Homo sapiens: one gene and its partners. The protein of the gene in region 1 interacts with the protein of each later gene in a biochemical or structural test. Each region holds a gene or a part of one and is shown in the gene's direction. Other genes may lie near its edges.

The links.
Region 2: of the proteins of CSNK2A1 (region 1) and HMGA1, one has a biochemical effect on the other in vitro, tested with the Homo sapiens proteins (2 studies listed by BioGRID and IntAct).
Region 3: of the proteins of CSNK2A1 (region 1) and CSN2, one has a biochemical effect on the other in vitro, tested with the Homo sapiens proteins (2 studies listed by BioGRID).
Region 4: of the proteins of CSNK2A1 (region 1) and MDC1, one has a biochemical effect on the other in vitro, tested with the Homo sapiens proteins (2 studies listed by BioGRID and IntAct).

Annotation. Positions count from the first base shown.
Region 1 is NC_000020.11:471,371-478,576, reverse strand, and holds the end of CSNK2A1 (casein kinase II subunit alpha), read left to right. Parts: 3' UTR 1-6,079; downstream 6,080-7,206. UniProt on the Homo sapiens protein: Catalytic subunit of a constitutively active serine/threonine-protein kinase complex that phosphorylates a large number of substrates containing acidic residues C-terminal to the phosphorylated serine or threonine.
Region 2 is NC_000006.12:34,232,663-34,239,872, forward strand, and holds the start of HMGA1 (high mobility group protein HMG-I/HMG-Y), read left to right. Parts: upstream 1-4,210; 5' UTR 4,211-4,219; coding exon of another isoform or gene 4,220-4,301; exon of another isoform or gene 4,302-4,541; coding exon of another isoform or gene 4,542-4,655; intron 4,656-4,752; coding exon of another isoform or gene 4,753-5,718; intron 5,719-6,128; exon of another isoform or gene 6,129-6,295; intron 6,296-7,210. Other genes in the region: translation initiation factor IF-2-like, read left to right, coding at 3,584-3,594, 3,913-4,068, 4,220-4,301, 4,542-4,655, 4,753-5,718. UniProt on the Homo sapiens protein: HMG-I/Y bind preferentially to the minor groove of A+T rich regions in double-stranded DNA. It is suggested that these proteins could function in nucleosome phasing and in the 3'-end processing of mRNA transcripts.
Region 3 is NC_000004.12:69,962,164-69,970,942, reverse strand, and holds the start of CSN2 (beta-casein isoform 1 precursor), read left to right. Parts: upstream 1-5,214; 5' UTR 5,215-5,262; intron 5,263-8,779. UniProt on the Homo sapiens protein: Important role in determination of the surface properties of the casein micelles.
Region 4 is NC_000006.12:30,706,614-30,715,026, reverse strand, and holds part of MDC1 (mediator of DNA damage checkpoint protein 1), read left to right. Parts: intron 1-843; coding exon 844-1,224; intron 1,225-1,309; coding exon 1,310-1,379; intron 1,380-1,672; coding exon 1,673-3,153; intron 3,154-3,300; coding exon 3,301-3,360; intron 3,361-3,522; coding exon 3,523-3,615; intron 3,616-6,669; coding exon 6,670-7,461; intron 7,462-7,572; coding exon 7,573-7,643; intron 7,644-8,413. UniProt on the Homo sapiens protein: Histone reader protein required for checkpoint-mediated cell cycle arrest in response to DNA damage within both the S phase and G2/M phases of the cell cycle.

The DNA of each region.
Region 1 (7,206 bases):
ATGGTCAGTCCATTTCTTAGAGAAGTTCCTGGGGGGATTGAGTATTTCTGAGTCAGCTTCACTCTTGCATCATCTGCTTTGACAGTTTTCTTGGCTCCTGTAATGAGAAAAAGGGAAAAAAATGCTGCAGCAGCTGGGGCTGGCTTCCTGATCCCACCCTGGGAATCAGAGTCTCAGCTATTGATAAACATTTCTAGCCATACCTAGAAGGAGAGGACCTTGCTTCTGTGTGTTGAACAGTTCCAAGAACTCCATGGTGAACTTCCTATGAAGAACCCTCCATAACCCTCAACCCTTCAAACCTGACGGTATACCTCATTTTGTTCTCCCGTCTCTGGCATTCCTCACCCACCCACGCTGACTGGTCTTTCCAAAGTTCATTTCTGTAATATAGGATGTCTTTGGTTTCAACAAACATTTGTAAGTGCCCCTGAGCCTGGTCTTTGCTATACACTGGGGATTGAGAGGTGAGACACAAGCCCATGGGGAAATGTATGTTAATTAGAAAAGTGAAAAAATTGTGTATATGGGATAATTCCAACTGTTTTAAAAAAAAAATCCTAGGAAAAATGCAAATGCCTATTTCAGAGAAAGAAATGGAAATCCCAAGGTGGCAAAAAGGAAGGCAGAATTCATCCTGAATGTAACTGGGGTTTTTTTGTTTTGTTTTGTTTTGTTTGTTTGTTTTGTTTTTGAGACAGGCATGGGATTACATGCACCACCACGCCCAGCTAATTTTGTATTTTTAGTAGAGACGGGGTTTCTCCATGTTGGTCAGGCTGGTCTCGAACTCCCGACCTCAGGTGATCCGCCCGCCCAAGCCTCCCAAAGTGGTGGGATTACAGGCGTGAGCCACTGCGCCCAGCCTAAGTGGGTATTAAAGTCAGTGCTTCCAAGACACTGGGTCTGGGTATAGGTGGGCCTCAGGCTATGGACTAGGGTTTGAATGCCCCCAGGGAGATAGGACACAGACTCCCGGGCTTTCTAAGATAGAAACTGAAACAATGCTGTGGCACTTGGAAAGGCTACAGGGGCAGGATTGAGGTGGTGGGGGTGGTAAAAACTAGAAGAATACTAGCTGTTGTTGCCTCTGGGTGATGAGGTTAAGATACCACGGAAGGCCCACACACCTGTGGTTGGAACACTTTGGGAGCCGGGAGTCCCAGACCAGCCTGGACAACATGGCGAAAACCCACCTCTACAAAAAATAGATTAGCTGAGTGTGGTGGTGTGCGCCTGTGTCCTAGCTACTGGGGAGGCCAAAGGACGAGAATTAATTGCCTGAGCCCAAGAAGTCAAGGCTGCAGTGAGGTGTGATTGTGCCACAGTACTCAAGCCCAAGTGACAGAGCAAGACCCTGTCTAAAAAGATTTTTTTAAAGTCACAGAAGCTGGGCGTGGTGGCTCATGCCTGTAATCTCAGCTCTTTGGGAGGCTGAGGCAGGAGGATTGCTTGAGGCCACGAGTTGGAGACCAGCCTGGGCAACATAGGGAGACCCTGTCTCTACCAAAATTAAAAATTAGCTGGATGTGGTGGCACATGCCTGTAGTGCTAGCTACTCTGGAGGCTGAGGCAGGAGGATCACTTGAGCCCAGGGGTTCAAGGCTGCAGTGAGCTATGATAGTGCCACTGCACCCCAGACTGAGCAACAGAGTGAGACCCTGTCTGTAAAAGAAGTTGTTATTAATTGAAAAAAAGATTTAACAGGCTGGGTGCAGTGGCTCACACCTGTAATCTCAGCACTTTGAGAGGTGGAGGCGGGCGACTCACTTGAGCTCAGGAATTCAAGGCCGGTCTGGGAAACATGATGAAACCCTCTCTACAAAAAATACACAGATTAGCTGGGCATGGTGGTGCATGCCTGTAGTCCCAGCTACTTGGGAGGCTGAGATGGAGGAATCAATTGAGCCCAGGAGGTTGAGGCTGCAGTGAGCCATGATTTCACCACTGCACTCCAGCCTGTGCAACATAGGGAGACCCCGCCTCCAAAAAAAAAAGTAACAGAAAAACTCACTAGGTGCCGGGCATGGTGGCTCACGCCTGTAATCCAACACTTTGGGAGACCAAGGCGAGTGGATCACCTGAGGTCAGGAGTTTGAAACCAGACTGAACAACATGGTGACACCCTGTTTCTACTAAAAAATACAAAAATTAGCTGGGCTTGGTGACGTGTGCCTGCAGTCCCAGCTACTTGGGAGGCTGAGGCAGGAGAATTGCTTGAGCCTGGGAGGTGGCGGTTACAGTGAGCTGAGATCACGTCAGTGTACTCCAGCCTGGGTGACAGAGCCAGACTCCATCTAAAAGTAAAAAAGAAAAACTCACTAGGAAGGAATCTTGAAGTCTTGGAGAAGAGAGAATGGTCCATGAGGCCTCAGAGGAGGGGCTGCCTGAACTGGCGAGGGAGAGGCCCAGCCTAACAAGTTTCAGCTGCCAAGGCCCATGCCTGGGATCAGAACCCTGTCTCCTGGCTCAATTTTGCTTGTGGGGCTGCTTTTGCACAGCTATGTTGCCAGGAATCTGTCCAGGTTCCTAGCCAGTCATTGCAGACAAATTTTTTCTTTCTTTTGCTTTTGTTCTCTGTCTAGTCTTAGTCTCACAAATTTCTAAGGCAACTGTATGTAGTTCAGCTGATCTAGATCAAGTTCAGCCCAAGCAGCTGTTTTTCAGGTTGTGGGTCGGCTGGGCTGGACACCTCCATGTGAATTGGATTCAGGTTTGCCCAATGTGGCAGAAGTTGCAGCAGCTACTCAGGGCGTGCTCTTCTCATGAATCACAGAAACTTAGAAGAGACCAAATGGAATCACACAAGCACATTTCAAGCCTCTGCTGTGTCACAAGCACCATCATCCCATTGGCGAAAGCAAATCACATAGCCAAGCCCAACATCAGTGCAGTAGGGAAGCATAGAGCCTGTGTTGGGAAAACTTTATGAGGTTATATGGCAAAGGGTGTGTATGTTTAGTCTTATTACAGGGGAATGAAGAAACAAACCAATAATGCAATCAGCCATACTATTCATATATATCAGTAGGAACAGAAGGCAACCACATATAACATCTATGTATATATATATGTGTGTGTGGAAAGGATTACACCAACTTTTTTTTTTTTTTTTTGAGTCAGAGTCTTAACTCTGTCACCCAGGCTGGAGTGCGGTGGCATGATCTCAGCCCACTGCAACCTCCACCTCCCAGGTTCAAGCGATTCTCCTGCCTCAGCCTCCCAAGTAGTTGGGATTATAGGCACATGCCACCACACCCAGATAGTTTTTGTATTTTTACAAAACAACAGGGTTTCACCATGTTGGCCAGGCTGGTCTGGAACTCCTGACATCAAGTAATCTGCCTGCCTCGGCCTCCAAAAGTGCTGAGATTATAGGCGTGAGCCACCGTGCCCGGCTGAGAATACTTGTTTACTTGTTTTCAAGCAACAAAAATTGAGAATCAGTCTTTGAGACTCCATGGCCAGAAACAACACAACATTCCACTATACACAGGGTGCTTCTGGGGGTCCTCGGTGTTGTGTTTATTGGGGTGGTACCTAAATGTTGTATTTGCTCTATAATTATTTGTTAAACTCTCCATTTACGTTTGGGGCACTTCTCAGTATATTTGCTAGAGTTCAAATGTTTAAAAGTTTACAAAATGAAAACTGAGCAGAGTAAGACAAGCCAAAAAAGTATTAACTCAGCAGGAATGGGAAAAGTTATGAAAGGAGGGAAAACTAAATATCATACTGCTGGTTCAGCTGTGATTAGAATTTACGTAGTCATAATGGAAACACTGAATACTGGTCTAACCAGGATTACAGTATGATGACAATGGAAAGAGGAGTGATGGGAAATGCTGGCATGTGTGGTGGTGTTGGTAACAGGACAAGCGGTCTAAGCTCTAAACTCTCATCATTTATAAGGGGAACTAATGCCTAAAACTGAAAAATCAAACAGTTGCATGTTATTTTGAGATTTTTTAAATTATTGTTAAGATAGTAGCAGTATTTACTTTTAAAACTATATTTATGTATTACTCTGGTGAAAAAGCAACTACTTTTAATAAATGGATATTTATCTTGAATGCATCCACTTCCTCCCATTCCCGTTGCCAAATTCCTCATCCCAGCCACCATCCTCTCTTGCTTGGAGTATCATAGCAGATAACTGGTCTTGATGCCTTCCCATCTCGTCTCAATTCCTGATTCATCTGACACCTGCAACCAAAGATCTTTCAAAAATAAATATTCTAGTCCAGGCACAGTGACTCATATCTATAACCCCAGCATTTTGGGAGGCCAAGGCCCGATGATCACTTGAGGCCTGGGTAACACAGCGAGTCCTCTGTTCTACAAAAAATGAAAACATTAACTAGTGTGGTGGTGTGTGACTATAGTGCTAGCTACTGGGGAGGCTGGGTGGGAGGATACGTTGAGCCCAGGAGTTGGAGGCTGCAGTGAGCTATGATCACATTGCTCTCAGTGAGACCTGGCTGACAGAGTGAGAACCTCTCTCTTAAAAATAATAAATAAATTTTATCTCAGTCCCTTGCTTAAAAGCCTTTCAAAGACTAGATCACTTGCAATGTTGTTGTCTCCTCCCAAGGGAGTCATTCCTCCCTTCCTCTTTGTTGACAGAGCCCCAGTTTGAGGGACAGCGGGATATCCACCATGCTGCTGTGAGACTCGGGCAGTTGTGACTGGTTTAGAAGTGGATACACAGGGAGAGGTCTTCTGGAAAAGGTCTTCTGGAGAGCTGAGATCAGAAGACAATCAACTGGCTTCAAATCTAAGGAGAGACAGGCACAAAATGGAAGAGATGACATGGGCACTGGTTACCTGGTAAACACAAGTGGACACTGGTGAGGGACTGGGTCATGGAGACTGCAGTAGTCTTTACCCTTTTCAGCGTTTTTCACCATGAACCCCACTGGGAGCACACAGAAGATTGGAGAAAGTTTTAATAAAATGTCTCAAGATCTGGAAGAAGACAATGGCAGCTACTGTGAAAGGATCACAGTGCTCCACCCAGACCCTTCCCTGTATCCCCTACCGGACAAAAGCCTTAGTCTGTGGAGGGAAGGACACCAAATCCTGTCACCCCCTTGGATGAAGCTCCCTTGCATCTGGGGGAATGAAACAGGAACAAAACAAAACTTTCCCTGGGCAGGGGCAGGAATACACACTGGGCCCAGAACTGGGGGAGGAACAGGAGCACTAAGGAGGACATAACCCCAAAATCAGAGACACAAAGGGCCTGACAGAGACTGAGACTTGATCAGAACAGAGAATTCCCTCCTCCCCCACCTGCCAATGGTAAGCTGACAAGCCTTGAGTTAGAAGTAAAAATGTTACAGGAGAGAGACAAGAGTATGGGAAGAAGACCCTTTCTGAGGGTCACAAAGGGAGGACCTAAAGCTGAGCAGGGAGCACACATGGAAGGAGAAAATCCCTCTGGCAGGCCAGCCTGCACCCTCAGTCCAAGGTGTCATTGGAGGAACTGGAAGCTGCTGCATTGGGGGTAACCATAGCAACAATAAACCTCAAACCTAGCCCAACTCTTTTTTTTATTTACTTTTTAGAGACAAGGTCTTGCTCTGTTGCCCAGGCTGAAGTGCAGTGGTGTGATCGCAGCTCACTGCAGCCTCAAACTCCTGGGCTCAAGCAATCCTCCTGCTTCAGCCTTTGTAGGAGATTGGTCAGGGTGGTGGGAGAAATTATAGGAAAGACACAAACCTTCTTGGAAGGCCGAGAGGTTTTGCAAAAGCTTCAGAAAGAAATTATGGCTGAAGGCAGCCAAATTCTTATCTGAAGCCTGAGAGCAAAGGGCAGATAACAGGGGAGTTGTATAGGAACTTACCTAGATAAATTTGTTTATTCCTGTGTCCAGAAACCAACCTTTGATCATTCACACACAGGACTGCTGTCTACTTGGGATGTTGACAATGTTTATTGCCCACAAATTGTGTTTGCTCCAAGCCTTTGTCATTAAATTTGTGCTAAATAAATGTGAGGGCCACCAGCTTAAGGGGACTGCTAACTCTCTTCGGCCCCTAGTGCTGGCAGTCCCCTAGCCTGCTCTCTCACTGAATATCTGTGTCTGAGTACTCCTTTCATCTGTCACTCGGCCAAAGTCTGTGGGACAGACTCGGCAGGTGATTCCCTGTGTGAGGAATGCTGCAACAGATCACGACGGAACCCTCGAAAATGAAGGTGAAGAGACTGCGCAGTCAGTAAGTCATTGGTGCCTGTTCAGCATTTCCAAGTTCAAAGGAATTGCTCAAGCTAGGGACGATCATCATGGGATGACAGTTGTCATCATGGGACAACAGTTGTCAGCTCAACAGCAACAGTATATAAAAGTAGTAAAACAAATGCTGAAAGTTAGCAGAGCCTCAGACAGGCTCAATTATGGGACCTAATGCAAACTGTTGTTTCCCATAACCCATGGCTCTCGGAAGAAGGTACACTAGACGTAGAGCTCTGGGAAGAAATTTTAACATCATGAGCAAGGGCAATGGGTCTCAGTAACATCTTTAACGTTATGGGCTTTAGTTAGGACTGCTTTGGTCCCACTCTACACAGAAAAGCCTAAAAAAGTAAGGGAGATGGAACCGTCACCTACCCTACCGTCTCCTCCTTCTCCCTCAGCCCAGCCATTAACAGGCAAAAATAACAAAGAGGAAACAGAGGTTTTGCCTGAGCCCCCTCCTCCAATAAATTGGAAAAAGACAAGGGATACACTACAGCTTTGGGACCCTGTCTTAGCCAAGCGGCATCAGAAGGGGAGCTCTTAGCCTGCCCAGTAATGCAAGATCGACAAGGCGATCAGGTATATGAACCCATTTCTTTTGACGCTTATAAAGAGATAAGAAAAAAACGTTAAAGAAAATGGAGCTGCTAGCCCATTTATGAAAGGAATAATTGAAGCCATAGCAGACAACTTCTTTTGACGCTTATAAAGTGGTAAGAAAAAGCATTAAACGGAGCCACTAGCCCATTTACAAAAGGAATAATTGAAACCATAGCAGACAACTTCCATATCACCCCATGGGACTGGTCAGTGCTAGCTAAAACAACTTTAAAGGCCAGTCAGTACCTCCTCTGGAGGGCAGAATTTGATAAATTGTGTGAACAGCAAACCTTTCTAATAATGGCCACTGTTATTCCTCCCCTACCCCTGACATGGCTCTCTCAAAATCCTATTTGGGTAAAACA
Region 2 (7,210 bases), on another chromosome or scaffold:
CCCACCTCAGTCTCCCAAAGTGCTGGGATTACAGGCTTGAGCCACCACACCCGGCCAAGACCTGGTTTTAATACCTGTGAAATGGGGCAACAGTATCACTCACCAGTAGGGATGTGGAGGATCTGAGAGAACATGTGCATTCAGTATATGCTTATCAACTCCACTCTCTCCTTAGATTTCTTCAGGGGTTGGAGAGGAGCTGGGCTTCCTTGGGGATTTAGCCCTGAAGAAGTAAGCTGACAAGTCCATGGCATCTTGGGGCCATGCAAGGTGGGTCATTAGCTCACAGTAGGAAGGCGGAGAGGGCCCTGATTCCTGGGCCCTCCTTTTCACTTGAGAGTTTTTCCCTCGAAAGTTGGAAGCAGCAGAGGCCCTCCTCCCCTTCTAGGCCTGCCAGCCTTGCTGGCAGCAGAACTTGTGGTCAGCAGAGCCTGGAAGCCTGATCCTGCCAGATGACCAGATGCACTAGTAGCTGGGTGACTCTTGAGGAGAGTGGTCAAACATTGTGTACCAGGGTAGCCCCACCTCCTACCGGCCTGGGTCAGTCCTGGTTGATAGGGGCCAGGTCAGGTTTATGCCTGTTGTCTGGCCATAAGTATTAATAGTGCCGCTTTCACTCTGAAGTGCCCTGCTCGTCTGCTGAAGCTGAGCATACACATCCTGTGATCCAATAATTCCTCTCCTAGGCACGTACGCAACAGAAATTTGCACATCTACTCACCTATATTCTAGAACATTCATGGCAGCACTATTCATAATAGCCCCCCGCCAGAAACTATCCAAATGTCCTTCAACAGAATGGATATAAAATTGTGGTACATTCATATCACATCACTAAGCAGCCCTGAGAATGAACATTCTGCAGCCACACACAATAGCATGGATGAACCTCACAGACATAAGGGTAAGCAAAGGAAACTAACCCAGGAGAATACATAATGTAAGACTCCATATCCCTACGTGTGCACGAACAGGTGAAACGAAGCGCTGCTTAAGTTGAGATGGTGGTTACACAGGGGTACTGGAGATGTTGTATTTCTTGGTCTGCATGCTGGTGACACAAAGGTGTTCACTTTGTGAAAATGCATCAAGCTGAATACTTAATAGAACTAAATGGAACCATCCACATTAGTTTTTTCACCTACTCATCTAGAAAATGAGCTTAAGAGTCAGCGTCCCAAAATATAAAGTTGACTCAAACTCCCCATTCCCTGGACATTCCCATTGGGTTCACTGAAGCTCACTGGGTCGTCCTTGAGCAAACTGTATAGACTGACTCCAATAACAGAAAATGCTTCCTGTGGGGAAGACGGGTTCTGGTATCGACCAACTCAACCCCCCGGGCCTTGACCATGTCCTTGGCCTGGAATAGCTCCCTCTTCCTGCTTGCCCTGTCCCCAACTCCTCAGCCACCCACCTATCCAAGTCTCACGAAGGCCTGCTCAAGCCCGTCTCCTCCAGGACTTCCCTGACCACCCTGGGCTCCCATCCTCTCCTCCTGTATTTCCTCCTAAGTCTGTAAGCGCCTGACCCCTTGGTCCAAGTTTCAAGAGTGCAGGGGACTTTGTTCATTAATTGTACCCCAAGAATTTGGCCCAGTTCCTGCTACAGAGTAGGTTCTCAATAACTACTGAATGAAATGTTTTCTAACATGGCATCTCCTGTACTGCTATTCAGTTTTCTCTAGTGCAGGCCTGATTCTGATTTCCCTAGACGTGAAATTCGCTGGGACAAGGACTAGATCCTACCCATCTTTTTATCTCTACCACTCGCTCTTCTGCTTAATACTTATTTAAAGGGGAAAGAAAGGAAAGACAGTGAATTCAGGGCATTGACAATCCAGAAAGCGTGGAGGTGGGGGTCAGTGAGTAGAGAGTTATTTGGATTTCAAGGGTGTGGGTAATCCTGGAGAGGAACAAGCTACTATATTTATTTGCCTACGAATTTATTTATACCTGCCTCCTTCCAGAAAGGGTTTGAGGTGGCTGACAAAAATACACACAATACAAGGTAAAAAACAAGTCGCTGAGGAAATCAGGCCGAGAGGAAAATAAGAGTAGGAAAAATAAGATCGAGTCGGCTTGCTACAAGTGGGCCAAAAAGTTGGCCAAGTTTTCCACAGCCCACTCGAGGCGGAAGTCCCTCTCCCCTCCCCGTCTCAGGGGCGGCCACACGTCCCACACGGACGGGGAGAGATGTACCCGAGAGAGAGGGCGGACAGGACCCTCTCCGCACCTCCCCAGCCGCCAGGCCGCCAGCCCGGTGCCCGGGCCTAGCAGCCTCCGCGGCCTTGGAGAGCGCGAAGTGGAGGGGCGCGCGGCTCTGGGGGGCAGCCCGAGCCCAGACCTGGGTCCCAAGGTGCTGGCGGGGAGCCTGTGACCTGGGACGGGGTGCTGGAGGCTGAGGAATCGCGCCTCCATGCCACGCCGCAGAGGTTCCCGCGCTCGAAACCGAACGCCCTCCAGCCACCACCACTCACGGCCTACTAAGCGCGCGCTCCGGGCCCAGGGCACAAAGATGGAGGGAGCGGCGCGATCCACCCGCCCCACCCCCACCCACCAGACAAAGGGGCAGGCCGCCCCTCCCCCAGCCTTCTTCGCGGGCCCCGCCGCCCTCTGCTCCCCTCCCCTCGGGCCGCCCTTTGGTGACTTCCTTTCCCCTCCAAGGGCGGCCCCGGGACTTCTCAGGAACTGCGTTTCACCTGGACGTGGGGCGGGGAGCCGGCGCGCAGAGGGCGGCCTCCGGGCCCACCCCTAGGCCGAGCCGGCCCCAGGCCCGCGCCCTCCCCTTTGAACCCGCGCTCCCGGCCCCTGGCGCCTTCCCGCCCAGGCGCCCCCGCCCCCACCCGGTCAAGCACGTGCTGCCCGGGCCCCGAGCGCTTCCCGCCGCACGGGTGGGGGCTGGGCCCACCCCCCGCCCGCTCCCCACCCCCACCGGAAACATTCCTGCCACATTCCTGCAACTGCAAGGCCCAGCCCGCCGCTCCCCACCCCGCCTCCGCGCCGGGCCCAGGGCTTTCCTGCGTCCCCTCCACCGCCGGCTCGCCCCCTGAGGAGGGGGCTGGGCCAGGGCCTCGGCTGACCGGGGAGGAAGAAGGGGAGCAGAGAAAAACATGAGTCACAGCCGTGTGTCACTGGAGCGCATTTCAATTCCCTGCATCACAGGAGGTGTGGAAGGCCGCCTCGGGGACCGGGCGCGGGAGGTGCGCCCGAGAAGGCCCCGGGCCGGCCTGCAGGGCGCGCCGCTCCGCCTGCGCCCTTTCCTCCCCCACCGCCCTCCCCGCCATCTTCCCCTTTGGCTTCCTTCTCGCTCGGTGCAACAAGTCTTTGTTAAGCCGGGCGCCGGGCGGGCCAGGCGTGGCGGAGATGGCCTGCGTGCTCGGCCCCTGCCCTCAAAGCGCTTCCAGGCGACCTCTGGCCCACCTTTTATTTTTATTTACAGTCCCAACGGAAGGGCCCAGGTCCCCAAGTGGGCCTGCGTATCTCCAGAACACCATCTAAGTCACCTCAAGGTATGAAGCCTCCCTTGGGTGTACCTGCCAACGAGCCAATCGTTGGTTTCGCTGGAAGGCTCCACCTTGATCATGGCTCGCTGGTGGCCATTAATAAAACACTTTGGATTTCACAAGTTTCACGTTTGAATTTCACAAGACTTGTATCTCACCAATCAGCCACACGCGGGTTGACACTGAAAGGCACATGCTGACACCTGTCCGCCCAGGGGAAATCTACCATCTCTCTATTTTAGTTAGGGGGCGGCGTGTAGGCCGCGGAATTCTCTAACGAGCGCGTTTCTCTTCACCCCCTGGGCCCGCGTGGACCCCCGTCCACCCCCACACGCCCTGGGGGGGGGGCCGGGCCCACACGCCCTGGAAGCCCCTAGAGGTGACTCTCCCTGGGACCCCTGTACCAGGGAGGAAGGATACCGCCACCCGTCACCACCCCCCGCCAGAAGCTCCTTCGTGACTCCTCTGCGCGTGCCTTCCCACACCTCCTCCGTCCGGGACTGCGAGGAGTGGGCGGTCGACTCGAGTTCGCAGCCCAGGCCTCCCACACGCCCCTCCCTGCCGTCAGCACCCACCCGCGCGGCAGCGGCGGCGGCGGCTGGCGGGCGGCCGCCCTTTTAAATCCCCGGGCTCATTTGCATGGCCCCGCCCCCTGAGTGACACGGCTGGCGCGGGCGGGCCCGTCCCCCCTGCCCCTGGGTCGCTCTTTTTAAGCTCCCCTGAGCCGGTGCTGCGCTCCTCTAATTGGGACTCCGAGCCGGGGCTATTTCTGGCGCTGGCGCGGCTCCAAGAAGGCGTGAGTTCGCGGCCGCTCCGGTGGCTTCTTTTTTTTATATCTATAATTTAATTAAATTATTTATTTATTGAGGCCGCGCACGGGCCGTGCCCAGCTTCCTGCCCCTCGCCATCCTTCGGGGGAGGGGGAATATTTTTGTCCCCCCGCCTGGCTGTGACACATAAATACCCCGCGGGGGCCTGGGCGGCGAGCACGCGGCGGCGGCGGTCTCTGAGCGCCTCTGCTCTCTCCCGGTTTCAGATCCGCATTTGCTACCAGCGGCGGCCGCGGCGGAGCCAGGCCGGTCCTCAGCGCCCAGCACCGCCGCTCCCGGCAACCCGGAGCGCGCACCGCAGGCCGGCGGCCGAGCTCGCGGTGAGTCGTCCCCGGGGCCCGCGGCGGCGGCGGCGGAGGGGGGCGCCCGCGCCCCCGCCCGCACGTCGCCCCTCCTGCGAGCCGCCCGGGGCTGCAGCGCGCGCCGCCGGCTTTATTCCCAGGCCGGGGCGGCGCGAGCCGGCGGCGGGGGAGGGCCGCGCGGCGCGGGGGCGGGCGGCGGGGCCCGGCGGCGCGGGGAGGACGCCCGCACCCCTTCCCCCGCGCCGCGGGCGCCCTGCGGGGGGCGGGGACCCGGGAAAGGCGCGCGGTGGGGGAGGGGGCGCGCAGCTGCGGCGAGCGCGAGTTGTGCACCCGGCGGAGCCCGGAGGAGCCCGGCGCACCTCGCGCGGCGGCCGCTCCCGCTGGAGCCGGAGCCCGAGCCCGAGCCCGGGCCCGGGTGAGGGGCGGGGAGAGACACGGGCTGCGGCGCGGCAGGAGAGTGGGGGGTCGGGCGCCCCCCGCAGCTCAGGGAAGTTCTGGAAGTGAGGGAGATGGGGAGGAACCCCCAAATTCGGCCCTACGCCCTCTCGGCCTTTCTCTCGCGCCCCCTCCGCAGATGAGGCCGGAGCGCGGGCCTGGGTTTGGGGCTTCACCCCGACCCCACCTCTGGCCTGGCCCGCGCCTCTTCAGCCCCAGGGGCCGGGCCTGCCCTCCGCCCCCACAAACTGGTTTCGCTGCTTTGCTGGGCTCTGTTGGAACTAGTCCCTTTGACTCCCCGTTTCTATTTTATTTTCTTCTGGGGCTTTATTTTGCGGGGAGGGGACGGAGGGAGGGGGCTTTCTTCCTCTCCCCCGCGCCCGCGCGCGCCAGGTTTCCTGCCCCAAGGCGGGCTTGGGTGCCCCCTCTGGCAGGAAGTGGGGCCGGGTGCACCCGCGTGGCGGTGCATGCGGTCGGGGTGCGCTGCTTTCCCGCGCCTGCAGGAGCGGCCTGCGCCCCTCCCCCCGCGCGCCCTGGCCCCGGGTCCCGCCGGCCGGCCTGCAACGGCCGGGCGCAGACACTTGCAGAGTCACCCTCGGGCCGGGTCTGGAGCCTGATGCCTCGGGGGTTTAGCCCTAGCCGCTAGGCGGGTAGGCAAAGTGTCGGGTTGAAAGGGTCTCCGGGAACCTACTTCTTCCTGCTCGCCAACTTGCTGTGTGACCTTAGGCAACTCAAGGCTTCTCTGGGCTACTTTTTTACGGGGGACGGGGAAGAAAACAAGGGAACCCCCAAGATAATTTCCTAGGGCCTTTCCTGCAGAGTCCTTAAGTATTTGAGGAGCACAGTTTGCATGCACAGTGTATGGAGGAGACAGGCTTGAGGCCCAAGCGGGCTTATTACAAAGTGAGGGATTGGGGTTAGGCCCTAAATGTAGTTCCTCCAAGACAGGCCTCTGATGTTCAGAAACAGGTGGAAAAGACGAACGTTTCTTGGCCTCACTGGAAAGGGCCTCGGGCCTTCATTTAGTTCGTGGGGGGTTGGCTGAGGGGATTAAAGGGTCCCCAGCAGCAAGAGGTGGGGGGAGGCACCAGATGGTATGAGAGCTTCCAGGGAGACCCGCCAAGATCTCCAGGCAGGCCGGGCCAGGCTCTCTGGGATTCCGGACTGGCTTCGCCCAACTGGAACCCCCTCGATGAGGGGGCCCCAGGCAGACCTTATATGAGGTCAGCACTCGTTTAGTTGATTAATTTTGATGTTTAGTTTGAAGGGGGACCTGTGGTGTAATATAAGATTCTAATCACTGCCTGTAATTGCAGAGCAGGCCAAGCCACTAATGACGGAGCAGGATAAATCACCAACCACCTTGTTTAAAAGGGTCTCCAAGTCTGAAACATTATAAGATAGAATAATTACCAAAGTCCTGCTGTCTGGAGGGTCTCTTGATGCTTGAAAATGGAGGTCCTGGGCCCTCTAGAAATCACAAGTTTGCAAAAATGTTTTTTTCCTCTCATTGGGGTAAAAACTCTTTTTCTTCTTTTTTTTTTTTCTTTTAAATTAGACATGGGAGTCCCACCGTATTGTCCAGGCTGGTCTCGAACTCCTGACCTCAAGCAGTCCTCCTGCTTTGGCATCCCAAAGTGCTGGGATTACAGGCATGAGTCACCTCACCTGGCCCATAAATCATTTTCAAATGGTCTAGTTCTTATTTTGGTTAGAGTGAAGATTTCTTTCTATTATTTTAAGTTTTTCTAAACTATTACCTAGTTTGATCCTTGAAGCAGTCAGGAGGTAGTTCAGGCAGGTACCTTATAATTACCTTGATCTTACAGATTGAGAGGGGTTCAGAAGTGGAGCCGCTTGTCCCACCCCTTACCATGGCAGGCAGGGATTGGTTACTGGAAAAATGTGTAGCCTAGGCCTCCGGCGTCTCATCCATCTGTAGCCTGGGGATAAGGACTAGGATGAAGATGTGGAGGACTGTCCTTTTTAAGCCTGTAATACAGGGTATTCCCAAATACAGGTTGCAGGCCCTCCTTCCAATGAGAAGTTTTAGGAAAACTCAAAATTGATGGGGTTAATTAAACCCCAACAGGCCTCTAAGAAGAAGGAAGATGCTAGAAAATGACCAAGAAGGTTTT
Region 3 (8,779 bases), on another chromosome or scaffold:
AGGTGGCGCGATCTCTGCTCACTGCAAGCTCCGCCTCCAGGGTTCACTCCATTCTCCTGCCTCAGCCTCCCAAGCAGCTGGGACTACAGGCGCCCACCACCACACCCGGCTAATTTTTTGTATTTTAAGTAGAGACGGGGTTTCACCGTGTTAGCCAGGATGGTCTCGATCTCCTGACCTTGTGATCCGCCCGCCTCGGTCTCCCAAAGTGCTGGGATTACAGGCGTGAGCCACAGCGCCCAGCAGAAAATAACAATTATTAAATTGTTCATTGTGAAAGCCTGGGTTGCCCCACATGACATTTTGCTTATTTGTCATTGGGTTCTGATGCTTACTGGGCTCTTAGCACCTGGTTTTATCTTAAACCTCTGGCTTTTCAATTTTTTCTTAGGCAAGCCTCTTATTCTAGTGCTTTCCTTAATCATAGTTTTGCCCACTTTTCTGGGCTAATCAAGTCTGTAATTATACTGATTAGTGTGACTAAAAATTGATGAGCATTACAAGGCTATGTTATATTTATTGCACAATGCATAAAGCATTTTTCTAAGAAAAAACAAATGATATATAGAATGGACAAGGCATGCTTGTTTTTGTATTACTTTCTTAGAAACCTTAACTTTGTTGCCTGTGGCCTTGGCAACTCAGAGCTAAACCACAAAGCCACATTGGGTAGCTAGGGCCTTTCCTATTTGGACTTAGGACGCTGGAGTAATTTCATCATTTCTTTTCCTGGCTTCCTCCTGGCTCAGTATGAACATAAAATGAATATCAGCTGAACAATTCAAATGTATAGTAGACATTGACCTGGGTTTTCTGAGAAATATGAAATATATGTGACAATCAGGAGTGTCCCCCTCATTCATAGATCTAGGATGATATTAATGCAAGGTATATTATAAAGAAAAATAGTTATGTAGGTCTATACTCAGCTTATTTAATTTAGAAGGGCATCTATTTGTGCTTAAGTCCTGAATATATCTGTCATAGGCAGTAAATAGAAAAAATAAAAATTATAAGAATGAGTAACATCCAACACAGTCAGCCAAACACTTATGAATAGCAATCACTAAAGAGGCAAGGAAATTTGTAGACTTATTTTGTAAATGGGCACAACTCAAGTATTTTGAAGCCTACCTCAGTCTCTACTTTCGTACTTTGACCAAGACCCTGCTCTTTTCTGGGATTCAGTATTCTTTTTTGCCTCAATTTTCTGTACTTTCATAAACATTAGCAATCAATATTTACCTACTGGAAAACCAAAACAAAAACAAAGAACGTGAGCTCAAACTTGGTCAGTTTCATTTTAATAAATGTGTACCTGTATCATTTGTTCTCTAAAAATAGCCATTCTCTAAATGTTACTGTCCATCTTAAATTCTTCAATAGATCCCTCCATCTGCAGAATAAAATTCACATTCCTAAGGAGCAAAGCATGCTTTGTCCATCGTCGTCTGATTGCTTTCTCTTTTTGTGTTCACATTTTCATCCTCTCTCTTCCTTGAACTTCATTATCCAGGTTCACTACTTGATTTAGTTCTAGTTACTTGTTTCTCATATCCAAGACTACAGTCTTTAACTATTTTTAGCTAGAATTCTCTATCCTCCTCGATTAACTGCTTTATCTGGCTTCAAGATTCTGCTCAGGACTCATGGCCTCATGGAGATTCTATTTTCCTCTCCCATGAATCAACTAAAATGAACTAAGTATTCTCCTTCTGTCAATTGCACCTTCTTACTGCTTTATTAGCATATTCCTTACATGTCGTAACAAGTAGATTTTTATGTCTGTTTTCCCACGAAGGTTTTGACCTCCTTGAGGTCAAATGTATCTTTTATTTTTCATTTCATTCTGGATAATTTAGGAAATGCCTGCAAACATAGATATTTAATATGAAATACATTTTCCTCTAACAAACTTTATGTTCACCTATTTTCAGCATTCTGAATGTATGGCTATTCCTTGGATCTAGTCATCATACAGAAATTCTCTTCTTTCTAATGCTGAAATTCCCAAATGAAAAAATCTCTGTTTTTGTACTTCTCAAAATTGGTATCTTCTTAGGCCAGGTCTTTGCCTTTCTTGCCATCTCTAGTCATTCAAGCCCTCTTTTTAGTATGTTAGCTTAAACAATACCTGATGGTTTGCCATTTTTAACACAAACACTAATAATCCCAACCCTATCCTAACAATTCTCTTAACCTATTGATACTAAATCTCCGCCATCTTGCCATACAACTACTTAGATAAAAAAATCTGATATATAATCTCATATAAGTCATAATTATTGCTCGTGGATTTGTTATTCATTTTCATTTTCACATTAACCAAAAATTTCTGCTCTTTCAAAATTACATATATTTAAGATGTACAACATGATGTTTTGATACTTATATAGTGAAATGATTACTGTAGTCAAGCAAATTAATATGTCCATCACCTCACATAGGTTACTCTTTTTATCTTGTGGTAAGAACATCTAAAATCTACTTTCAGCAAATTTTTATTATACAATAAAATATTAATGATTATCATCCTCACACTGTACATTACATGTCTAAACTTATTCATCCTACATAACTGCAGCTTTGTTTCCTTTGACCTACATCTCCTTATCTATCTTCCACCCTGAACCCCTGATACCCATCCTTCTACTCTTTGTTTCTATATATTCAATTTTTAAAACAAGATTCCACATATAAATAACATTGTGTAATATTCGTCCTTCTGTATCTGGCTTAGTTGACTTAAAGATTCAACTATGTATAACCATGTCCTTCAATTTCAGTTGAGAACTCCCCCTTTCACCTCACTAGAACATTAAGACCATTTAACTTCAACTTCTCTACCTTTTATCTCAAACATGTATTGTATCTACTTATCTTCTTATTCCTTTTTGTTTTCTTAGGAAAACTGGTACATTTTTTATAGGTCTTATTCTTTTCTCCATGACTGTACAGGAACTTGTTCCATTAATTTACTCCCACTTCTTTGGTATGTTTCAACTCTTTCCTTATTGGCCTCTTTCTTGTAAGCTACAAGTCTTCCTTACCCTAAAAATACCTTCCCGTGGTTCTGATTATCCCTGTACACCTAGTCACAATCTTACAGTTCTCCTTATCTCCTCTTCTAAGTTTCTCAGAAGGGCAGTACACATATGTTACTTTTAATTCCTCACAAATTACTTACTTCTTAACCATTTGGAGTGTATCTCAATCAGCTGTGTAGCATTTCACTGTTGACCTCACTTGCTTCCTCTAGCAATGCAGGATATCAAGGAGAGGAAGTGGATTCTGTACTCTCTTATTCTTGATATCGCAGGTTTTTTTTTTTCCTATTTCCTTTTGCTATACCAGCCCCTGTAAAAGAAAGGATACTTGAATTTTGTTTTGTACAATTTCTTTTCTCACTTGATACTCTTTCCCTAGAGACCTTCACTTACTCCTTTGAAGGGAGAAATTACCTTTAAAAATTATACTCATGATTATTTCTTGAGTATCACATTTAATTTAAAACATCTTCTGGACACCTTCAAATTTACCACGTACAAGGTTTTACTCAGTGTTTCATTTCTAATTTCAGCCTGGTTTCATATTTTGATTTATAACATGGCTAACTTTTCAGTCACTCAGGCATAATATATTAATTCATTTCCCCAATTTTTCACATTTCTCGTATTTTAATGAGAAGTTTGTCTTTTTATTGCCTAAGATGCCCAGGACCATTTCCCTACTTGAGATCATCATAATGTCTGTCTTAGGCTACTGCAATAACATAACATAACAACTTCCTTTACTAGGTTACCTGATTTGTTGTCATAAAGTCATGAAATCCAAGAAATTTTACAATCCATTTTTCTTTCAAATCTCTAATATATTTGCTTCCACTGAATTATGTCACAGTGCATGCCTGACATTCACAGTCATCCATGATCTGATTCTATCAAACCTCTGCAATTGTAACTTGCAATGTATGCCCTCTGAATATCCTCAAACTGGTATGTTGCTCTTTCAGTTCCTGTGTTTTCTTCAGCCAAAATATCTATCCCCATTTAATCATCTCGCAAAATTCTACTCATTCTCTAAGGCTCAACTAAAAGAGCAGTTCCTTAATGGCAAGCTCCCCTGCCACACACAGCACAGAGGCCCTACTTTTCCAATTCAGGCATAATTAAATTGTACATATTTCAACCAAATGCTACATTGATAGATAAATTTTATAAAAAATTATCAGAAGGTTAAAACATGGGCTCTGAGACTCACATGTGATCAAACAGAATCACATGTAGTCAGACAGATCTGAGTCCAACTGGTATCTTTGCCATTAACAATATGGTTTTGAGCAAGTTACTTAACCTTTTGGCATCTCTGTTTTCTCAACCTAAATATGAAGAGGAGAGCTACCTCATGATGTTCTTGTGCAGATTATACAAGATAATATCTTTGCTTAGTGCTTGGCAAAGGGTTAGAACTAAGCAAAAAAACCCATCATTAATATTATCATAATTATGCTTGACCTGAAAAGAGATAATCAATATTAAAAGGTAAATAAAACTCCGTGATACTTTGCAAAATTTTTATTACAGATTTACTGAAGATTTTGCCTATACCAGCCACCCAGATTCCCTCTTCAAGTTATTCCATTACAGAGGAAAGTTTATTTATCTTGTGTACAAAATATTTGTTTTAACTAAATTATTTTTTTTTCCAAATCAAGTGGCCCTGGGAGAAACAGTTTGCCTCACATAACTAAGCTACCATCATGGACTTGTTATCTTGTCAGTTTCTTCATTTCAGCATAAAGCACTAACAACTGCTTAGGTTCACATGAAACTGTGGCCTTTGTGAAGCCCTGTGTATATCTAGCGTTCACATACAATTTTCCCACAACTGAAATCTCAAGGCCCCACTAGGCCCTAAAGAGACCTAATTATGTCCATAATAACTTGGGGACAGGGCCAGAGTATCACTGTCCTCCAGTCATTGTCTTTTGTTATTGAATAATTGCATTTCCTGGACAGGTTTCTTTTATCAACTTGTGAATTGTTCCCTTGTTATAATGATGCCCAGAATTTCTGGGGATATGTAATAGGCAGAAATCATTTTCTAATCATGTGGACTTCTTGGAATTAAAGCTCGCTATTGATCTTATTTCAAATCACAAAATTAGTGTGTCATTAAATATAGTATATAAACAGTCACAGAAGCTGATGGACCATCATCCATCCAGCACTACCTTCACTTCTCTTCAATCTTGGAAAAACGGTAAGAATTTTAGATACAAATTTGTTGTATCTTCTCCTAACCATGTATTTCAAAGTAGCTTGAGCTATAGAAGGAACGTAGTTACTTAAAATATAGTGTTTGAAATAAAAGTATTTAAGGTAGTACTGAGATTATTTTTAACACTTAGGCTAAAAAAGATAGAAGTGCCCAGAAGAATTTGGTAATGACATATAGCCTTCATGAGTTTAAGAAAATATAATAGCTAATTTTATGCATATATATATATATATATATATATATATATATATATAGTATGAGGCTAGTTCATAGTTAATATTAAAAGGAGATTCATTTTTTTAATTAATCTTCCAATTTGATTTAGCATATCACAGTTATAAAAAGAATTATACTTCAATTATAGTATGGGTAGATAAATAATTACTGGAAAAGCTTTGTCCAGCAGGTAGTTTACAGCAGTAGCATACTGAGTTGAGAAATGGAGGGAATGGTATGGGGGCATTTACTACTTTAAATGTTTATAAACAATGTTTTTAGAAGAGTTTACTCATCAAACTTGTCTAGAGCCTCAAACTTCCCAGTTTATTATCTAGTTTGTAATATTTCAAAACAATATTAAAATGAGACAGAAATACAGAATTAAGTAAAAAAGAAACAATGTGGTTTACTTTGTAAGAAAATTCTTAATGGGGTAGAAAAGACTTGGAAACCATAAACAAAGATAATAGATGATATAAAAGAAAAAGTAGCTTAGAGTGTACCAGTTGATAATGAAGCTCTGGCTTAAAAATTAGTATATAAAAGTATACCAGTATGTAGTATATTTATAGTATAGAAATGAGTATAAAAACTAGTATAATTAGTATTAGTATATATTAGTATATTAGTATATAAATTAGCATTGTAATTATACATTCGTATATAAAATTATTATATATATTAGTAGATTAGTAATAAAACTAGTAAAGTTTATATTACTTATAAAATATAGAAAATGCTGTGGGATCTTCCCTATGTGTAATTATATATAATAGAGTGTTATATTCTGTTTCTGAACCCTGACATAAAAATTTGGGAACTTATAGTGGTCTTAGGCAAAGTAAAATTAATAAAAACTTAATTAACATTCATAAAAAATCTAGAAAAAATATTTGTTTTCTGTAATAGAATTATGTTCAACCTTCAAATATTGAAAAGAACATCTCTCAAATAAATTAAAGACTTTTTTGATGAAGTATTTTAGTTCAAAAATTTAGTTCAAAAATTGAGTTTCAATATCTGAGAATGAAGATTTGAGTGGTGAGTAATATTGTGGCACAAACATTATTTTGAAATAAATTACAAAAAAATGTAAGAACACATAACAAGGAGATGATTTAGTATATTTTGGTCAAAAATATTAACATATATTTCACAAGAAGAGGTAGTCCCAAGCTTAGCAGTGGGCAAGAGGCTCTGACCCCTTGGCGGATCATCAAGAGAATCGTGTGTACATTTCAATAAAGAGAAGAGAAGAAGCCTAGTGTACAATATCTAAAGTCATGTGGCATAAAGGAGAACAGACATTATTAGCTATGTGGGGAAGATGAATATAAACGGAGAAGAAACAAACTCAATAGTCCAATAAAGTCTCTGGATAGTGACACAAATAAGGAAAGTGTTAAAATGAAAACCTCAGTCTTATTGGAAATGAGGAGAAATAAACTAAAATAGTCATGGTAACCGTTTAGTGAAAAGAAAAAAGGTAAAAATAAAATGTGACTTTTTTGTACACATTTTCTTGATCAGTCTCTTCCAGTAGAACTGAGGCTCCATGAGGGAGTAATATCAGGACTGTAATATTTTGTTCATTGCTGCGGTCCTGGTCCCTAGACAGTGTCTGGCAAGAACAGATTCTAAAGAAATATTTTTAAGTTAATGAATAAATCTTTTTTTAAATTTTATTTGTCTTTTGAAATTATTATTATTATACTTTAAGTTTTAGGGTACATGTGCACAAAGTGCAGGTTTGTTACATATGTATACATGTGCCATGTTGGTGTGCTGCACCCATTAACACGTCATTTAACATTAGGTATATCTCCTAATGCTATCCCTCCCCACTCCCCCCACCCCACAACAGCCCCGGTGTGTGATGTTCCCCTTCCTGTGTCCGTGTGTTCCCATTGTTCAATTCCCACCTATGAGTGAGAACATGTGGTGTTTGGTTTTTTTGTCCTTGCGATAGTTTGCTGAGAATGATGGTTTCCAGCTTCATCCATGTCCCTACAAAGGACATGAACTCATCATTTTTTATGGCTGCATAGTATTCCATGGTGTATATGTGCCACATTTTCTTAATCCAGTCTATCATTGTTGGACATTTGGGTTGGTTCCAAGTCTTTGCTATTGTGAATAGTGCCGCAATAAACATACATGTGTATGTGTCTTTATAGCAGCATGATTTATAATCCTTTGGGTATATACCCAGTAATGGGATGGCTAGGTCAAATGGTATTCCTAGCTCTAGATCCCTGAGGAATCGCCACACTGACTTCCACAATGGTTGAACTAGTTTACAGTCCCACCAACAGTGTAAAAGTGTTCCTATTTCTCCACATCCTCTCCAGCACCTGTTGTTTCCTGACTTTTTAATGATCGCCATTCTAACTGGTGTGAGATGGTATCTCATTGTGGTTTTGATTTGCATTTCTCTGATGGCCAGTGATGATGAGCATTTTTTCATGTGATTTTTGGCTGTATAAATGTCTTCTTTTGAGAAGTGTTTGTTCATATCCTTTGCCCACTTTTTGATGGGGTTGTTTGTTTTTTTCTTGTAAATTTGTTGGAGTTCATTGTAGATTCTGGATATTAGCCCTTTGTCAGATGAGTAGATTGCAAAAATTTTCTCTCATTCTGCAGGTTGCCTGTTCACTCTGATGGTAGTTTCTTTTGCTGTGCAGAAGTTCTTTAGTTTAATTAGATCCCATTTGTCAATTTTGGCTTTTGTTGCCATTGCTTTTGGTCTTTTACACATGAAGTCCTTGCCCATGCCTATGTCCTGAATGGTATTGCCTAGGTTTTCTTCTAGGGTTTTTATGGTTTTAGGTCTGACATGTAAGTCTTTAATCCACCTTGAATTAATTTTTGTATAAGGTGTAAGGAAGGGACCCGGTTTCAGCTTTCTACATATGGCTAGCCAGTTTTCCCAGCACCATTTATTAAATAGGGAATCCTTTCCCCATTGCTTGTTTTTGTCAGCTTTGTCAAAGATCAGATAGTTGTAGACATGCGGCATTATTTCTGAGGGCTCTTTCCTGTTCCATTGGTCTTGGTATCAGTTTTGGTACCAAGTACCATGCTGTTTTGGTTACTGTAGCCTTGTAGTATAGTTTGAAGTCAGGTAGCATGATGCCTCCAGCTTTGTTCTTTTGGCTTAGGATTTACTTGGCAATGTGGCCTCTTTTTTGGTTCCATATGAACTTTAAAGTAGTTTTTTTCAATTCTGTGAAGAAAGTCATTGGTAGCTTAATGGGGATGGCATTGAATCTATAAATTA
Region 4 (8,413 bases), on another chromosome or scaffold:
GGATGTTCAAGTATTGATATAGATCTTTTATTTTTGTGGTAAGGTATTTGGAGGGTTGCAAGAAGCTTATGTATGTTTCAATGAGATGTGAATTTTTTTTTTTCATGAATGGAAGAGATGGGGCCGATTGAGTTGATAGTTGCAGACTACTACCCTGGACTCACTGGAAGTGATTTTACTTTGATAAAAGAAAATTAAGAGATTGAAATGAAGCTGGGTGCAGTGACTCACACCTGTAATTCCCGTGCTTTGAGAGGCCAAGGCAGAAGGATCACTTGAGACTAGGAGTTAGAGACCAGCCTGGGTAGCATAGCAAAACCCTGTCTCTACGAAAAATTTAAAAATTAGCCAGGTGTGGTGGTTCATTTCACATCTGCAGTCCCACCTACTTGGGAGGCTGAGCCAGATGATCACTTGAACCCAAGAGTTCAAGATTGCACTGATCTATGATCATGACACTGCATTCTAGCCTGGGTGACAGAATGAGACCCTGTCTCAAAAAAAAAAAAAAAATCAAATAAAATCCAATTGTGTGCTCTGGAGATGGATGGTAGTGATGATTGCACAACAGTGTGAATGCACTTAATGCCACTGAACTATACACTTAAAATTATTAAGGTGATACATTTTGTGTTATGTGTATTTTATAACAGTAAAAAAACATCCATTGTGGATGGATGGGGTATCGCATATACTCTTTCAGTGCCTAGATGTCCTAGGGCCTTTTATTTTTCTAATGCATATGGAGGCCTTGAGTGAGTAGTAGAGTACCTAATAGGCACTTTTTCCTAATGACAGGCCAGGACTCTGATCTTGGAGCTTATCTACCTCTCTAATTCTTAGATTTCCCACTACACCTCGGGAAGAATGTGGTAGGCCGAATGCCTGACTGCTCTGTGGCCCTGCCCTTTCCATCTATCTCCAAACAACATGCAGAGATTGAAATCTTAGCCTGGGACAAGGCACCTATCCTCCGAGACTGTGGGAGCCTTAATGGTACTCAAATCCTGAGACCTCCTAAGGTTTTGAGCCCTGGGGTGAGTCACCGTCTGAGGGACCAGGAATTGATTCTCTTTGCTGACTTGCTCTGCCAGTACCATCGCCTGGATGTCTCTCTGCCCTTTGTCTCCCGGGGCCCTCTGACAGTAGAAGAGACACCCAGAGTACAGGGAGAAACTCAACCCCAGAGGCTTCTGTTGGCTGAGGACTCGGAGGAGGAAGTAGGTAAGTTTGTATATTGGCAGGGAGAATGAGGAGACAGGAATAATGAGTGTACAATTGTCAACTCATTCCTTTCTGTTCTTGACAGATTTTCTTTCTGAAAGGCGTATGGTAAAAAAATCAAGGACCACATCTTCCTCTGTGATAGTTCCAGAGAGGTGAGTGCCAAAGAGTCAGACACCTGAGTCTTCAAAATGAGGAAGAACCAGGGGCTGGAGGATCAATCTCTAAAAGAGATGATTATCATGAGAGTTGGGGCTGGGGAACCATACATATTCATTCACTCAGCTGAATTTTTATGGAGCACATCTGATGTGCCAAGTGGAAAACAAATTGGAAACAGAAGAAGAAATATGCTACCTTGTGTCTCCCCTCAAGGAGCTCACAGTTGAGTTGGGGTATCCCTTCCAGGGAAATAAATTCTATAGACTCTCTTTTCTTCCCTTCACAGTGATGAAGAGGGGCATTCCCCGGTCCTGGGCGGCCTTGGGCCGCCTTTTGCCTTCAATTTGAACAGTGACACAGATGTGGAAGAAGGTCAGCAACCAGCCACAGAGGAGGCCTCCTCAGCTGCCAGAAGAGGTGCCACTGTAGAGGCAAAGCAGTCTGAAGCTGAAGTTGTAACTGAAATCCAGCTTGAAAAGGATCAGCCTTTAGTGAAGGAGAGGGACAATGATACAAAAGTCAAGAGGGGTGCAGGGAATGGGGTGGTTCCAGCTGGGGTGATTCTGGAGAGGAGCCAACCTCCTGGAGAGGACAGTGACACAGATGTGGATGATGACAGCAGGCCTCCTGGAAGGCCAGCTGAGGTCCATTTGGAAAGGGCTCAGCCTTTTGGCTTCATCGACAGCGACACTGATGCGGAAGAAGAGAGGATCCCAGCAACCCCAGTTGTCATTCCTATGAAGAAGAGGAAGATCTTCCATGGAGTAGGTACAAGGGGTCCTGGAGCACCAGGCCTGGCCCATCTGCAGGAGAGCCAGGCTGGTAGTGATACAGATGTGGAAGAAGGCAAGGCCCCACAGGCTGTCCCTCTGGAGAAAAGCCAAGCTTCCATGGTTATCAACAGCGATACAGATGACGAGGAAGAAGTCTCAGCAGCGCTGACTTTGGCACATCTGAAAGAGAGCCAGCCTGCTATATGGAACAGAGATGCAGAAGAGGACATGCCCCAACGTGTGGTCCTTCTGCAGCGAAGCCAAACCACCACTGAGAGAGACAGTGACACAGACGTGGAGGAGGAAGAGCTCCCAGTGGAAAATAGAGAAGCTGTCCTCAAGGATCACACAAAGATTAGAGCCCTTGTTAGAGCACATTCAGAAAAGGACCAACCTCCTTTTGGGGACAGTGATGACAGTGTGGAAGCAGATAAGAGCTCACCTGGGATCCACCTGGAGAGAAGCCAAGCCTCCACCACAGTGGACATCAACACACAAGTGGAGAAGGAAGTCCCGCCAGGGTCAGCCATTATACATATAAAGAAGCATCAGGTGTCTGTGGAGGGGACAAATCAAACAGATGTGAAAGCAGTTGGGGGACCAGCAAAGCTGCTTGTGGTATCTCTAGAGGAAGCCTGGCCTCTGCATGGGGACTGTGAAACAGATGCAGAGGAGGGCACCTCCCTAACAGCCTCAGTAGTTGCAGATGTAAGAAAGAGCCAGCTTCCAGCAGAAGGGGATGCTGGGGCAGAGTGGGCTGCAGCTGTTCTTAAGCAGGAGAGAGCTCATGAGGTGGGGGCCCAGGGTGGGCCACCTGTGGCACAAGTGGAGCAGGACCTCCCTATCTCAAGAGAGAACCTCACAGATCTGGTGGTGGACACAGACACTCTAGGGGAATCCACCCAGCCACAGAGAGAGGGAGCCCAGGTCCCCACAGGAAGGGAGAGAGAACAACATGTGGGTGGGACCAAGGACTCTGAAGACAACTATGGTGGTAAGTGCTGGCCTTCCTTCCTAGACCTCTGAAATCAACCAGGGTTCTAACAGCTGGGGTTGGGGAGAGAAAGGTAGAGATTATTTAAGGAGTTTAGTGTCAGGTATGATTTTTGTTTTAAACTGTCTTATATTCCTCCCCGACCAGATTCTGAAGATCTGGACCTACAAGCTACCCAGTGCTTTCTGGAGAATCAGGGCCTGGAAGGTGAGGACTTCTGTGTTATTTGAATCCTGTACCAGTGGGAGCTGGGAGATTAGACTGGTGGTCCTTGAAGGGTAAAGGCTAGTATGGGTAGGGTAGGAGACCAGGAATGGAACCCTACAGTAGTATGGAGGAGATGAACTTAGGCCATCTTTTCCTGTACAGCAGTCCAGAGCATGGAGGATGAACCTACCCAGGCCTTCATGTTGACTCCACCCCAAGAGCTTGGCCCTTCCCATTGCAGCTTCCAGACAACAGGTATAAGAAACTCTTCCCTCCTCTGTGTCCCCAATTCTGCATTCTCTTTTTTTTCCTCTGTCACTCAGGCTGGATTACAGTGGTGCAGTCTCGGCTCACTGTAACCTCCGCCTCCCAGGCGGTTTCTCTTCCTTCAGCTTCCCAGGTAGCTGGGATTACAGCTGTCCATGACCATGCCTGGCTAATTTTTTGTATGTTTAGTAGAGACAGGGTTTCACCATGTTGGCCAGGCTGGTCACAAACTCCCGACCTCAAGTGATCCGCCTGCCTCGGCCTCCCAAAATGCTGGAATTGCAGGCGTAAGCCACTGCGCCCGGCCTGCGTTCTTTCTTGATTTGCCTTCCTACATGTTTCTTTCATACTCTGATTACAGTGAGCCCTCTGTGTATGCGAGTTTGCGTCCGTGAATTCAACCAGCTGCAGGTTGAAAATATTTAGGGACTGGCCTGGGCAACAGAGAGAGACCTGGTCTCCACAAAAATGAAAAAATTAGCCCAGCATAGTAGTGAGCACCTGTAGTCCCAGTTACATGGGAGGCCAGGATGGGAAGATCAGTTGAGCCCAGTCTGGGCAATAGCCCATCCCTCAACCCCCACCCCCAATGTCTCTTAAAAAAAACACACACACACTATTGCAGCACTGTTCACAATAGGCAGATATGAAATCAAACTAAATGTCCATCAACAGATGAATGGATAAAGAAAATGTAGGCCGGGGTCGGGCACAGTGGCTCACACCTCTAATCCCAACACTTTGGGAGGCCAAGGCAGGCAGATCACCTGAGATCGGGAGCTTGAGACCAGCCTGACCAACATGGAGAAACCCCGTCTCTACTAAAAATACAAAATTAGCCGGGTGTGGTGGTGCATGCCTGTAATCCCAGCTACTCAGGAGACTGAGTCAGGAGAATCCCTTGAACCCAGGAGGCAGAGGTTGCAGTGAGCTGAGATTGTGCCATCGCACTCTGGCCTGGGCAACAAGAGTGAAACTCTGTCTCAAAAAAACGAAAGAAAAGAAAATGTAGGCCGGGCACAGTGCCTCATGCCTGTAATCCCAGCACTTTGGGAAGCCGAAGTGGGTGGATCACATGAGGTCAGGAGTTTGAGACCAGCCTGGCCAACATGGTGAAACCCTGTCTCTACTAAAAATACAAAAATTAGCTGGGCATGGTGGCAGGTGCCTGTAGTCCCAGCTACTCGGGAGACTGAAGCAGGAGACTCATTTGAACCCCGGAGGCAGAGGTTGCAGTGAGCCAAGGTCACACCACTGCACTCCAACATGGGCAACAGAGTGAGACTTCATCTCTAATAATAAAAAAAAAGAAAATGTGTATATAGGCTGGGTGCAGTGGCTCAAAATACAAAATTTAGCTGGGCATGGTGGCATGCACCTGTAGTCTTAGCTACTCGGGAGGCTAAGATGGGAGGATTGCTGCCTAAGACGCAGAGGTTGCAGTGAGCTGAGGTCATGCCACTGCACTCCAAACTGGGTGACAGAGCAAGACTCAATCTAAAAAAAAAAGAAAATGTGTATATATACACAGTGGAACAGTATTCAGCAACAGAAGAGAATGAAATCCTGTCATCTGCAGCAACATGGATGAACCCTGAGGACATTATGTTAAGTGAAATAAGTCAGCACAGAAAGGCAAATATTGTATGCTCACTCATGTGGGAGCTAAAAACATGGATCTCATGGAAGTAGAGAGTAGAATGGTGGTTACCAAAGGCTAGGAAGGGTAGAGGGACAGAATGCATAAAGAGGTTGGTTAATGAATACAAAAATCCAGTCAGATTGAATGAATAAGTTCTAGTGTTCAGTTCCACAGTAGTGTTACTATAGTTAATAATTTATTGTGTATTTCAAAATAGCTAGAAGAGATTTGATATGTTTCCAAGACAAAGAAATGATAAATGTTTGAGATAGTGGATATCCCAATTATCTTGGTTTTATCATTGTACATTGTATGCATGAGTCAAAATAGCACAGGTACCCCATAAATATGTACAATTATTATGTGTCAATGAAGAAAAAAGAAAATGTGGTATATATACACAGTGGAATACTATTCAGCCTTTAAAAAGAAGGAAATTCCAGCCAAGCATGGTGGCTCACACCTGTAATCCCAGCACTTTGGGAGACCAATGTGGGTGGATCACTTGAGTCTAAGAGTTCAAGACCAAACCCCATCTCTACAACAAATACAAAAAATTAGCCGGGCACTTTGGCACATGCCGTAGTCCCAGCTACTTGGGAGGCTGAGGTGGGAGGATCTCCTGAGCCCAGCAGTTGGGAGTTGCAGTGAGCCAACATCATGCCACTGCACTCCAGCCTGGGTGACAGAGTGAAACTGTCTTGAGAGAGAGAGACTATTCAGGGAACTCTCTTATTAGGCTATGATGTTTTTCTTTCTTTCTTTCTTTCTTTCTTTTTTTGAGACAGGGTCTCTGTCACTCAGGCTGGAATGCAGTGGTATGATGAGAGACTATTCAGGGAACTCATATTAGGCTATGATGTTTTTCTTTTTCTCTTGGGTTTTTTTTTTTTTTTTTTTTTGAGACAGAGTCTCTGTCACTCAGGCTGAAGTGCAGTGGTATGATCACAGCTCACTACAGTCTTGACCTTTGGGGTTCAAGTAGTTCTCCTACCTCAGCCTCCCGGGTAGCTGAGACTACAGGACTACAGGTCCCCGTCCCCACACCTAATTTTTTTGTATTTTTTGTAGAGATGGGGTTTTGCCATGTTGTCCAGGCTAGTCTCAAACTCCTGGCCTCAAGCAATCCTCATGTCTTGGCCTCCCAAAGTCCTGGGATTACATGTCTGAGCCACCATGCCCGCCTAAGGCTATGACCTTTTTGAGACAAACGTTAAATGTTATAACTACCACCCTTATTCCCAGCTTACCTTTAATAACCTGTTCAGATTTATTATTCATGAGTTTATCTAAATCCTTTCTCATCATATTTATTATGTCAACCTGTACTTCCCTTTCCCTCTTCCTCTCCCTCTTTTCTCTCCCTCTCCCTCTCTCTCTCTTCCTTCCTCCCCTTCCAGGTACCCTAGATGAACCATGGGAGGTCCTGGCTACACAGCCATTCTGTCTGAGAGAGTCTGAGGACTCTGAGACCCAGCCTTTTGACACGCACCTTGAGGCCTATGGACCTTGCCTGTCTCCACCTAGGGCAATACCAGGAGACCAACATCCAGAGAGCCCAGTTCACACAGAGCCAATGGGGATTCAAGGCAGAGGGAGGCAGACTGTGGATAAAGTCATGGGTATACCAAAAGAAACAGCAGAGAGGGTGGGCCCTGAGAGAGGGCCATTGGAGAGAGAAACTGAGAAACTGCTACCAGAAAGACAGACAGATGTGACAGGAGAGGAAGAATTAACCAAGGGGAAACAGGACAGAGAACAAAAACAGTTGTTAGCTAGAGACACCCAGAGACAAGAATCTGACAAAAATGGGGAAAGTGCAAGTCCTGAAAGAGATAGGGAGAGTTTGAAGGTAGAAATTGAGACATCTGAGGAAATACAAGAGAAACAAGTACAGAAGCAGACCCTTCCAAGCAAAGCATTTGAGAGAGAAGTAGAGAGACCAGTAGCAAACAGAGAGTGCGATCCAGCCGAGTTAGAAGAGAAGGTGCCCAAAGTGATCCTGGAGAGAGATACACAGAGAGGGGAGCCAGAGGGAGGGAGCCAGGACCAGAAAGGGCAGGCCTCCAGCCCAACACCAGAGCCTGGGGTGGGGGCGGGGGACCTTCCGGGACCTACCTCAGCCCCCGTACCTTCTGGGAGCCAGTCAGGTGGAAGGGGATCCCCAGTGAGCCCCAGGAGGCATCAGAAAGGTAAGTGAAGGCAGAGGGGAACCCAAGGTGATACACAGGCCTCGTGATAATCAACCCCTGGGCAACCAGCTGCTTGGAACTCAGCCACCTTTGTGTTTACTTTCTGTCTAGGCCTCCTGAATTGCAAGATGCCACCTGCTGAGAAGGCTTCCAGGATCAGAGCTGCTGAGAAGGTTTCCAGGGTGAGAGCTACTTTTTCTACCTCCTATTCCACAAGTCATCTCTATATCTTCTCCAATGCTCTTTCACCTAGCCTCACTTTAATCTATTCCTTTCTCATTATTCAGTTTTCTTCCATTTTTGTCACGCCTTGATTGGCTTCTATTCCTTTATCCTCGGCACCCGTTGTTTTCCATATCTGTTTCCTAAGTTGTATCTCCTACCTGACTCAAAAGAAAGACCCTTCGTGTTTCTTCTTTCTTTGCCCCAGCCATCCTTTTCCTTACCATCATCCACGTGTGGAGAACACTATAGTAGCATTATGGAGACAGGTCTGTGGGAAAAAGGTAGCTTCCCAGGTAGATCCCAGTCTAATGGAGGAGAGATCATAGACAGAAAGGAAAATCCAGTGAGCATATTTTTTGTTTTTGTTCTTTTTTGAGACAGAGTCTGTCTCTGTCACCCAGGCTGGAGTGTGCAGTGGCGTGATCTCAGCTTACTGTAACCTCCGTCTCTTGGGTTCAAACAATTTTCCTGCCGCAGCCTCCCAAGTAGCTGGGACTACAGGCGCATGTCACCCGGCTAATTTTTGTGTATTTTTTTGTTTTTTTTGAGACAGTCTCACTCTGTCACCCAGGCTGGAGTGCAGTGGCGCGATCTTGGCTCACTGCAACCTCTGCCTCCCGGGTTCAAGCGACTCTCCTCCCTCAGCCTCCCAGGTAGCTGGGACTACTAGGCGCCTGCCAACACACCTAGCTAATTTTTTTTTTTTTTTTTTTTTTTTTTAGACAGA